Linked DNA regions of Homo sapiens: region 2 is linked to region 1. The links come from fine-mapping of genetic effects on gene expression. A gene starts in region 1. The other region holds a variant in brackets. All regions are shown on one strand. Distances are from middle to middle.

Region 1 (5,374 bases):
ACTACAAGGAGACTTTCAATAGATATTTGCCTCCAACATCTGAATGAAATTAGAGCCTCTAAAGTTACAACCACATGGTGATCCTTGGGTCTGATAAGTTCCTAGAGATAGTTCTCTACTCTGAAATTGTTTTTCTTAAACACATTTTTTTGATTTTTTGGTTTTTTTTTTTTTAGACGGAGTCCTGCTCTGTCGCCCAGGCTGGAGTGCAATGGTGCAATCTTGGCTCACTGCAACCTCCGTCTCCCTGGTTCCAACAATTCTCCTGCCTCAGCCTACCGAGTAGCTGGGATTACAGGCGCCCATCACCACGCCCGGCTATTTTTTTTTTATTTTTAGTAGAGACAGGGTTTCACCATGTTGGCCAGGCTGGTCTCGAACTCCTGACCTCAGGTGATCCACCCACTCGGCCTCCCAAACTGCTGGGATTACAGGTGTGAGCCACCGTGCCTGGCCCTTCTTAAACACATTTTTAAAAACTTTTTCTTTTTTGAAAAGATAACACAAGACAAAGATACAAAACGACATACTAAAACAGTCAACCTCCTATGGATAAATTACAGTGTATTTGCAATGGAATTCTACACACTTAAGCAAACAAAAATGAACTATTGATGTAGGCAACAACGTGGATGGATATCACAAATATGCTGAGCGAAAGGTGCCAGCCAGACACAAGAGTACAGACCATATGACCCCTGCATATGACCTTAAAGAACAGGCAAAACTAATCTTTGGTGACAGAAGTCGGAATTGTGGTTACCTAAGTGAGGGATGACTCATTGGGAGGATAAAATGTTTTATTGTTCTAATGGTGGAAAGAGGGGTGTAGATGTATGCACTAAGCTGCAGTGTGAAAATTTGTGTATTTTATTCTATGTATAGAATAATAACAAAGTCTCCTTTCCACTACTATGGCTCCCAGCTACCTCCCCGGAGGCCACTCTTCCAGTGAGGATTTCTTAGTGCCCCGTTTCTGTCACGACCTTCATGCCAGGGGCAGAGTCCTGGGAGCATGCCAGGGAGACACCAGAGGCCAAGGCTGCTCCATGGCGCAGCTGCACTGGGCCATGGCTTGTGTACGTACCCTTTGGCTTTCTACGGCCCTTTTACCCCTAGAACGCTATCCCTCTCTCTTCCTCTTCCTTCTTTCATCCCTCCCCTAAGGAGGCAGCTGTGGCATTGAGGCCTTGAGAGGTTGCTGACCCTTGCTAAACAGTGTTGCTTCTCCTGGCCCTCCTGGGTGCGCCTGCCTGGAGAGGACACTGCGTGCTGATCAAACTTATTGTTGACACATTCATTCTCTCTTTTATTCTCTCCCTTCTGATCCCTGGACTGATCTCTAGGAATTTCTGCTCCCTGGGTGCTCAGTCTCAGTGAGCTTCCCTGGTGGCAAGCCCTGATATGCTTCCCTTCCATGGGGCAGTCCTGATAACAACCTATTTTATATTTGCATATAAACCTGGCTGAGGGTCTGTCTTAACTCCAATCCCCCCACCCCCGGGCCCCAACTCCTAGCAGCATTCTAAGACTCCGTCCCTCCCCTAACCTGGGGCTTCAGCACAGCCGCGTCTGTGTCTTTTATCATCTGGGGTCGTCCTCCTACCAGATCTCCCTGCCTGAGGACAGAGGGTCCTGAGTCACGTTCAAGTCAATTTGGCAAGCGTTTTTGGAGCAGGGCAGAAAGTGAAGGGCACTACCCTGTTCCTCGACTTCAAAAATCGAACGCGGGGGAAATGGTGCACAATTCAGGCCCAGTTATAATAGCTCCTAATACCCAATATCTTGTTTTGGTCCTTCGTGAATACCAGGCATCCATCAGCGAACCTTCCATGCCTGATTTCTCCGAATATTCAAAACAACCCTGGGAGGATGAGCCCCATTTTGGAGATGAAGGAGCTGAGGCACGAGGTTTTAATGCGGGCATGTGGTCGCCAGAATTTGAATAGCAACTTCCCTAAGGAAACGCCCTATTTAGACTCTAGGGGAGAGGAGGATCCCAGGAGGAGTCCGCCAGCAGAAGCTCAGAGTCTGGCCTGGGGGCATTTAGTTATGCCACGCCCTTTCTCTACTGTTCCCTCCCGCGACAGGGGCCTGACAGGGAGTGGGGCTTCGGGCCAGCGTCTCGGCCGGACGCAGGGACTTCAGAAGAGGCAAATACAAAGCTCCGCATGGCAGAGGAACAGAGGGGCGCGGGGGAACGCGGTCCAAAGGTGGACCTTGTCGGCCCCTGGGCACTGCAAGCCTCGAGGCGCTGCGAGCGGTGAGGCTGTTGCAAGCTCCCGCGGCGCGCGCAAACTGCGTGGAACTACTTCCCCGGGGCGGCTTCGGGGCCGGGGTCCCGGCAACAGCCTCACGGGGCGCCGTGCGGGGCCCGAAGCCAGTTGCCAGCTCCCGGGCGCGGCCACGTGCGCCCCGCCGGGCTTGCACGCTCCGCCGCGCCGGGCCGCGGGGCCACCGACAGGCACGCGCGCCCCCAGCGCGCACACACTCCCGGGCACGCACACCGACCGCCCGGCCCACGTCCGCCACGCCCCGCCTTCCCCCGCGCCCCGCCTCCGCCCTCGCGGCGCCGGCCGCCGCCCTCCCATTGGCCGCACGGCGCGTGACGCGCGGCGCCAGGCCCCGCCCCTCGTCAGTCACTCGGCGGAGGCGGCGCTGGCGGGGACTAGTCTCGTCCGGAGACTGTGATGGATTTAACCAGGTGGGGAGGGAGGGAGGGCGCGAGCTTGGGAGTGGAGAGGGAAGGAGCCGGCCCACTCCCCGTCGCCGGCCTCGGGCTGCCCCTGCGCGCCCCCTCCAGATCCGGCCCGCGGCTCCCCTCCCGGCCCCCCCAGCCCCACGCTCAAGTCCACAAGTCCGCCCGCTTCCTGCGCCCGCCGCGGCCCTTCCCGGGGCGCCGCCGCCACCGCCTGGTGTGCGAGGCTATCCGGCCCGGGCCCGGGGCTTGCAGGGTGCCAGTGGGGGCGCCCGGTTCCCTTCCTCGCTCTCTCTTCCAGTCCCCGGAAAGGGTGGGTGGGTGGTCTCCCGAGCGAAGTTTCCAGCACTGGATTCCTGCGAAATTACGACGGCTCACCCGCGTCTGTGTTTTGCTGTCTCTCCCCCGTTTTCCTGCTCCCTGCCTCTTCCCTCCCTTTTCCCCCACTCTCCACTCCTCGGAAGGCCAAAAAGACAAGCGAAACCTGCCGCAGACGAAGGGTTTTGGGATTGTAGCGTCTGCACCTTCAGAAACAGTGCTGAAGCCTTTAAATGCAGCATCTGCGATGTGAGGAAAGGCACCTCCACCAGGTACTTGAAGATCTGTGTTACCTTTTGTTAAAGGACTTTTTTTTTTTTTTTTTAAGTGAGAGGGTAGTGAGCCTTACTTTCTGCCCTTTTTCCAACTTGTTGATTACGGCTTTTTTTGTATTTGCGGGTGGGTTGTGTGTGTTTTTGGGTTGAGTGTATTAAGTGTTGGGTGAAAAGCCTTGTGTTCGCTAAATGATTTATGGGAGGGAATTTTTCCAGGTTTTCATTTTATTTCAAACGGACACTGGATTTATTTGACACTTGTGTCTATTGGCTTATTGGTATTGGCTGGGGAAGAGAGGAAGCAGTACTATCGCTATGGATTGTAGGACATAGATGTTTTATATTTTTGCCATGTGTAGAATGGTTTTAATTTGCCTGTCCCGAGTTACTTTTCTCTTGTCTGAGAAATTTAGTGGGGGTAGTAAGGCTGGCTGTGCTTTTCCTGTCTTGAGCTGCAAATGTCTGTTACTTTCTTGCACTTGAAAATAAATGTCGGTATTTGATAAAGTAAGTGCATTTTGTGGGAGACTGAGCTGTCAGTTTTTTTTTTCTTTGACTAGCTTATGTGGGGTGGTGATGGGGGACGATTTTGTAAAATGGTGAAATGAGCAGTGACTGTGGAAGTTTGTGTTTAAAGCTCTGTGATGATGAAAAGAATGTTGAAAGAATTCCTTTTCATTTTGATGAAGGTCGTAAACTGCATGTGATGTTAAAACGAGTTAACTACTTTAGATTTAACATTCATAAATACTTGGATAAAATGTCAAGACTCATGTAGTCTTTTGGTCATCTTTTAATTTATGTCTGAATTTGTTTCATTGGCGTTAGAGTTTGAAGTTAAACTGTTCTTGGTGTCATTTAATGAACAGGCATTGGGTGTGTGTGTGAGACAAGAATGAGTTTTTGGTGGATCCTTTAGAACATTACAGTTGATTGCCAAAAGTCTCATTTTATCAGGTACTTATTTTTGAATTGGTGACATTTCAGTGTGACTGTGTAGTAGTACTTCACAGTTCCAACTGGATATTGTTCTTTGATTAGATGAATATGTCATGTTAAGGTTTCATTGGTTTATTTATACTTGGGATTAAATAGGATTATTGGGCAACCTAAAATAATCTAACTCTGAGATTAATTGGCCTAATTATTGTTTCTGTGAATTGCACTCTTTAAATGATGATACCTTTGAATAAAAATAATCAAAAACTAAAAATATTACTCCATACGTTGTTTTAAGAAATTTTTGTCGGTGTTTTGTATTATCATGGAATATATCTAAAGTAAAAAACACGCATCAGTAGTTTCATAGATTTTGTTTTGCTGTCTAAAATAGGGAATTCCATCAAATGGCATGAAAGTTTTTAGAAATGTATTTGTTATTTAAAGCAGTAGTGATTGTATATTATTTATGAGTAATGTTTTTTACATGTAGAAGCCCTCAGAGGCCAAACCTCTTTATTGTGGTTTTGCTTTGAGTGTTACCGTAGATGGTGTTCAAGTAAATGATTAGGAAACTCCTAAGAACTTGAGAACATTACTGGTGAAGAGAAACGTAAACCAAATTCAAAAGTTTATGTCTGATTTATCGCTGGGAATGATTATCTCATAATGAAGTGCATTTCAGCTTTTAACATGTATTTTAAAAAACCTTACTCATCAATTTTTCGGAAGCACATGGAAGGTGTTGACTTTTAAAAAAGGTATGTATGTATGTTTAAAGTTTTTTCAGAGCCGCAGATGACTGTTGAAACTTAGTTAAAACTACTGAATTATTTACAGTGAAAATATTTTAGAGTCTATTCAGGAACAGGGAAAGGCGTCTACTTTAAGGGTCTTCGAGTAATTTTCTGATGTCATTTAATAGAATTTGAATACAGATTTAACAGGTGTGAGGACTGAAAACTGTGTGCATTCATGACACTCTTAGCTGGCCACAGTTGGTTTCATTTTGGTTATTGTCAATATTTTGGTGTTTTAGATCTATTCAGAAGTCATCGTTGGTTGGAATGCAAATAACGTTTTGGTTTTCCTACATTATGAACAGGTTTTATGTGGAGAAGTGAGTTTGACAGGTTTTCATCCT
Region 2 (5,374 bases), 96 kb after region 1:
GGTTCTTGAAGTCGGTTTGTAATTAACCTTTCTGTGTAATGTGAGATTTCTCAACTAAATAAAGGGTAGAAAAATAGATTCAATTTTAATAATTAACAGATACTTGATTACAGGAGTTCCAATGTGCCTCGCAGAGTATTGGTTGCCATATGCTGGGGGTATTAGTCCACAGCCACATATAAACTGATCTGACCTATCTATCTTTTAAATTTCGGTTTCTTCTCTATGTGACAAGCAGGCTGGGCCTCGTCCGGCTCTGTGACAGGCAGGAGTGCAGCTTCTGGAGCCCGGAGCATGAACACCACAGCGAGGCCCAGGCTGCAGTCCCTGCCCTCATTTAATCTGTGACCTCACGGACTCGTCTCCAAACCATAATTGAATTCCCATTTGATCTGTTTGACCTCAGCCTCCCACAGTGCCAATTCCCTGGTGGACAGGGTGTGCTCTGAGAACTCTCCAGGCTGCAGGGGTTGCCACCTGCGCCCTCTCGGGCAGAACGTGGCCTCCAGACAAATCTTATTTGGCCTAGCCAGGGTTGAAAAACGCTTTTGAACGTGGATGCCTTTGGATGCTGTATTTGTTCCCTGGGGCTGCCGTAACAAAGTACCACAAACTGGGTGGAGTAAACAACTGAAATTGTCTCGTGCTTCTGGAGGCTGGAAGTCTGAGATCAAGGCATGGGCAGACTTGGTTTCTTCTGAGGGCTGTAGGGGATGGATCTATTCTGTGCCTCTCTCCTTGGCTTGTAGATGGCCATCTTCTCCCTGTATCTTCACACTGTCTTCCTTCTGTACACGTCTGTGCTTGAATTTCCCTTTTTTATAAGGACATTAGTCACACTGGATCGGGGCCCACTGTAATGACCTCACGTTAACTTGATTATCCCTGTAAAGTCCCCATCTTCAAATAAGGTTGCATTCTGAGATACCAGGGGTTAGGACTTCAGCATGTGAATTTTGGGGGGGTGTAATTCAGTCCATAACAGATGCCATGGCACTTCGTTTTGCCATGGTACCATCCATTTGTGAGTATCTTACACCGGCGCTTCTCCTCTCACTTGTTTACATGCCCTCCTGGCTCCTGTATATCTTTTTTGGGGGATGGAGTCTCACTCACTCTGTCGCCAGGCTGCAATTTCTGCTCACTGCAACCTCTGCGTCCTGGGTTCAAGCAATTCTCCTTCCTCAGCCTCCCAAGTAGCTGGAACTACAGGCGTGCACCACCAAGCCCGGCTAATTATTGTATTTTTAGTAGACATGGGGTTTCACTATGTTGGCCAGTCTGGCCTCAAGTGATCCACCTGCCTCAAACTCCTGGGCTCAAGTGATCCGCCCGCCTTGGCCTCCCAAAATGCTGGGATTACAGGTGTGAGCCACCATGTCTGGCCTCCTGTGTGCTTTTGGATGGTGACTCCTCCCTTGTTAGTTTATAGTTCATTCATTCATTTGTTCAATCATTCATCCTCATAAGATTGTTGAAAAAAATGAAATAATTTATTTCCATGTTAGCTTAATATCTGGCATATATAGGTATTCAGCAGCATTTATTTATTTATTCATTTACCCATATTTATCAAGCAAACATCCACCAAATGCCAGGAATGCAGCAAAGCCAGACAAGGTCACTCCCCCGATGGAGTGTATAGTGAGGTAGGGGAGAGACTCGATCCAGTGTTCACAGTGTAAATGTATGAACCAACTGTGATAAGTGCTCTGAGCTGCAAGGGGCAGCGGGAGGCCAGGCCATATGGAGCCTGCAGCCCGTGGGAAGGCATCTGAGCTTCTTTGGAATGTATCAGATGGTCAAACTGATAACTTATCAGCAAAGGGTGACACTCTCAGGGTAGCACTGGGGCAATCAGGTTGGAAGTGGGCAAGAAGGGATTCTGGAGATCTCAGGGAGGCTGCTGCAGGTGCCCCAAGAGAGAGATGGGAGCTTGGTCTCGAAGGGAGTGGAGAAGATGGAGAGGGGTGGATGGCTTTGAGAAATTAGGGGTAGATTGGCAGGACGTGCAGATGGGAGGGAGGTGCCAGGGATGGACAGGCTTACAGATGTGGCTGGGCGGTGTGGCTTCTCACTGAGAGAAGCAAGAGGATCCAGTTTATAGGTACATGTTGAATCTGAGGAGTCTGAACTTGATAAAACATGGAGCGTCACTGTCAATCATCTACTCCTTCATTCGACAATCATTTATGGGGCACTTGGACATGGGCAAGAGTGGTGTTAGATGTCAGGAATACTGCAGGAAGCAATGCAAACTGCCTTATGCGATGGACATTCTAACGAGGAGACAGACAGTAAATAAGTAAGCAAATAGATAAGACTATTACAGAGTATGATAAGAAAATAACGCCAGGTGAGGGGCTAAGGAGTGATTGGGGGTAAAAAGGGTGGGCTAATTAAGTTGGGGTGGACAAGAAAGGCTACTGTGAAGGGCTGCCATTTGAGCGGAAGCGTGAATGGTGAGAAAGAGCTGGATATGGAAGAGATAGGGGACAGTCATCTCAGGTAGGGGGCATAGCATGTGCAAAGGCCCAGAGGCAGGAACGGCTCAAAATGGGGTTGGTGTGAGAATCAGGGACCAGAATGTGCGCGTACTTACAGGCTAAAGTAAGGCATTCACACCTTTCCCCAGGTCCATTTAAGAAGGAAAGCCATGTAAGAAAGGCCTTAAGCCAGGGAGTGACAGCGTCTGCTTTCCTCGTTACAAAGATCAGCTCGATTTTGAGAAAAGACAAGATGGAATTTTAGGGACCTTGCCCATACCTTTCTCTTTTTGCTTAACTTGGTTCGAATTGAGTTTTTGTCTCTTGCACCCCAAGAGTTTTGATGAGCACATTTGGGAAGAAAAACCTTTCTGGTGGGACGTGTGTCAAGATCCAAGATTCACAGAAAGTCAGAGCTGGGTGGGGCCTCCGGGATGGGCTAGGTCAGGAGTATCGTGACTGCTCCCTACGGAGACTGAGGGGCGCCAAGACCCAGGCCTCTTTTGTCTGGAACAGCTGCTCTTTCATTGGTTTTGCACACACAGAGA[C/T]CTGCGAGCGCTTTCATCAGTGCTTTCCTTGACTGACAATGTCTGGAAACCACTGAGACAAGTTTATGCCACTGCTTTATACATGGGGAAACTGGGGCTCAGGGAGATTAGGCCACACGGCCGGGAAGAGGTCAGACGTGGCTGTGCCACTCCTAACTCAGTGCCCTTGGCAGTGGAGAAGGCTGCCTGCCTCCAAGGCTGGAACTGGGCAGTTTGCTGTGAGGGCAGAAGGTTCTTCCTTTCTTTCCTGGATGTGGCCAGAGAGGGGCCTGAAGGAGCTGCAGCTTTGTGATCCACCTCTTCCAGGACATGCGGGGAGCCACGGGGCCAATTCACAGGCTGGGACAGATCATGCATAAATAGAAGAAGGCAGGCCCTGGAGCTGAGCTGCCTTCTGGGGTTCCGCACATGATTGTCACTTACCCAGCCTCCTCTGAGGACTCAGGACCTCAGAGTCCTCGGGACAATGGACCATGCACTGTGGCCCAAAATAGGGTTTCGGGCACAAGCTTTGGAAGTAGAGCTGGGTTCAAGTCCCAGATCTTCCCCACATCTAGCTGTGGACACATTATTTACATTCTCTGAGTGGCAGTTTCCTCGGCTGAGAGAGAACGCATAGCAGCCTCCCAGCAATGTGGTGAGAACTAAATGAAGCACTTAGCACATCAAGCACTGAGCATGGTGCTTGGTACCTGGTCAGCGCCCAATACGTGGCTGTTCTTCTATTATAATAATTTAAGAATGATCACTATTTTCGTTCCAAGTTCCACACTGCACAGTAGGGGACAGGAGGCTGAGGAAGGCAGAGCCTGAAGGAGTCTGAACTGGGCGCTGGTTTGTCAATTGGCATGAAAATCCCACCTCATAGTAAATTTCCGATGGAAACGAAGCGTGAGAGTTCAGTGTTTTCCCACTTAATGGAATTGTGACTTTTCTTCTAGCCACGGTTCTTTGTCCTGAGTAAAGTTGTAGCAAAGGCTGTCACTGTTCGCACTTCTTTGTTTTATTTTTACTTGTGTGAAGAGCAATCAAAATAAATAAATCGGCTGTGTGATTTCAAGTAACTAAAACAGAAGCCAAAAATTGAGGGAGAAAAAAACCCCAACAAACCAAAACAAAACCAATCAAAATTTGCTTCTTCAGTGGCCCAAATGCCTCTTCTGAGTTTAGGCACCCGGGGGTTTGTCTGCTCCGGAGAACAGACACACCAATTGCATGGTGTTCCCAAGGCTTAGAGGAGCAGACTGAACAGTCAAATGCATTTTTGCTCTTCCAGCAATTTCAAAAACAAATAATTATAAACCTAACATTTTTTGAACTATTTATCATGTGCCAGGTGCTATAAATGTGTGTTTTACATGCATTCTGTCCATTAGTTCCTCCAAAAGCTAAGGATTAGTATCATTCCCTTTTACAGGTGAAGAAACTAAGGCTGAAAGAGGGCAATTAACTTGCTTATGGCCACGCAGCTGGTAAAGATCCCGGGAGACTCAGGATGCAGGGTAGGGCAGATTGCTCCAGAAAAGATGCTGAAATTCCTTCTGGAGACTCTGCTGGGTGGGGGTTGAAATATGGTGGTTGAGCCCTTCTGTGTTCCTAGGGCATCTTGGGAAGAATATAGAGTGGCCACGGCTCAGAGGACCCACTTCCTGACAGACTGTTTACTTCCAAGAGTAGTGGCCTCCCTCAATGGAAGAACCCCTAGACTTTCAAAGTGTGTTAGTCAGATTTTGCACTGTGATATGCTGCATGACAAGCACCCCCACAAAATCTCAGGGGCTCACAACCAACACTCTTTCTTTGTCTTGCTCTTGGGTCTGTGGGTCATCTGGGGGTAGATCTGCTCTAGGCTTTGGGTTAGGATCAGGAATGTTCCATGTGCTTCATTCTGGAATCAGAGGTTTCACAGAGGATGTCTTATGGGGAATGGCAGAAGTACAAAAGACCCAGCCAAACCAGCAAGCACATTTAAAACCTCTGCTCACCTCACATTCACTTACATTCTGTTGGCCAAAAGAAGCCAAGCATTCCATCACTGTACAAAGCAGATGCACAACCCACTTCCTCTGCAGTCCCATCTCCACACAATGGCAGCTTACTGCAAGACCACCTTGCCTTAAAAACTTTTGCCTCTTCTTTCCATGAGAATGAGGTTGGAAATTTTCCCAAAACAAAACAAAACAAAAAAAAGAAAAAAAGAAAAAAACTTTACTAAAGACTAAAGGGAGAAACACAGAGAGGCTGTAGGGGATGTCCACCAGTTCTGCTTGTGAAGCCTCCATTCAGCTGGTAATTCCCAATCTCCTCTTAGAGAATCACCTCTCCTCATTCTCGGTCCCT

Evidence for each region. PIP is the estimated chance that this variant, and not a neighbour inherited with it, causes the effect.
Region 2: its variant is the best candidate, but not a certain one, in a credible set for the expression of RYBP in whole blood (INTERVAL, PIP 0.62).

The regions. Positions count from the first base shown.
Region 1 is chr3:72,444,410-72,449,783 of GRCh38, reverse strand. RYBP (RING1 and YY1 binding protein) reads left to right here and starts at 3,161. Exons shown (of 4, transcript NM_012234.7): 1 at 3,161-3,288. The coding sequence starts at 3,161. RefSeq lists silencers at 2,315-2,724, 2,785-2,844.
Region 2 is chr3:72,348,891-72,354,264 of GRCh38, reverse strand. No RefSeq gene overlaps it. Among named protein-coding and RNA genes, the nearest start is that of RYBP, 95 kb to the left of the region's middle. The variant C/T (reference allele first, on the strand shown) is at 3,035.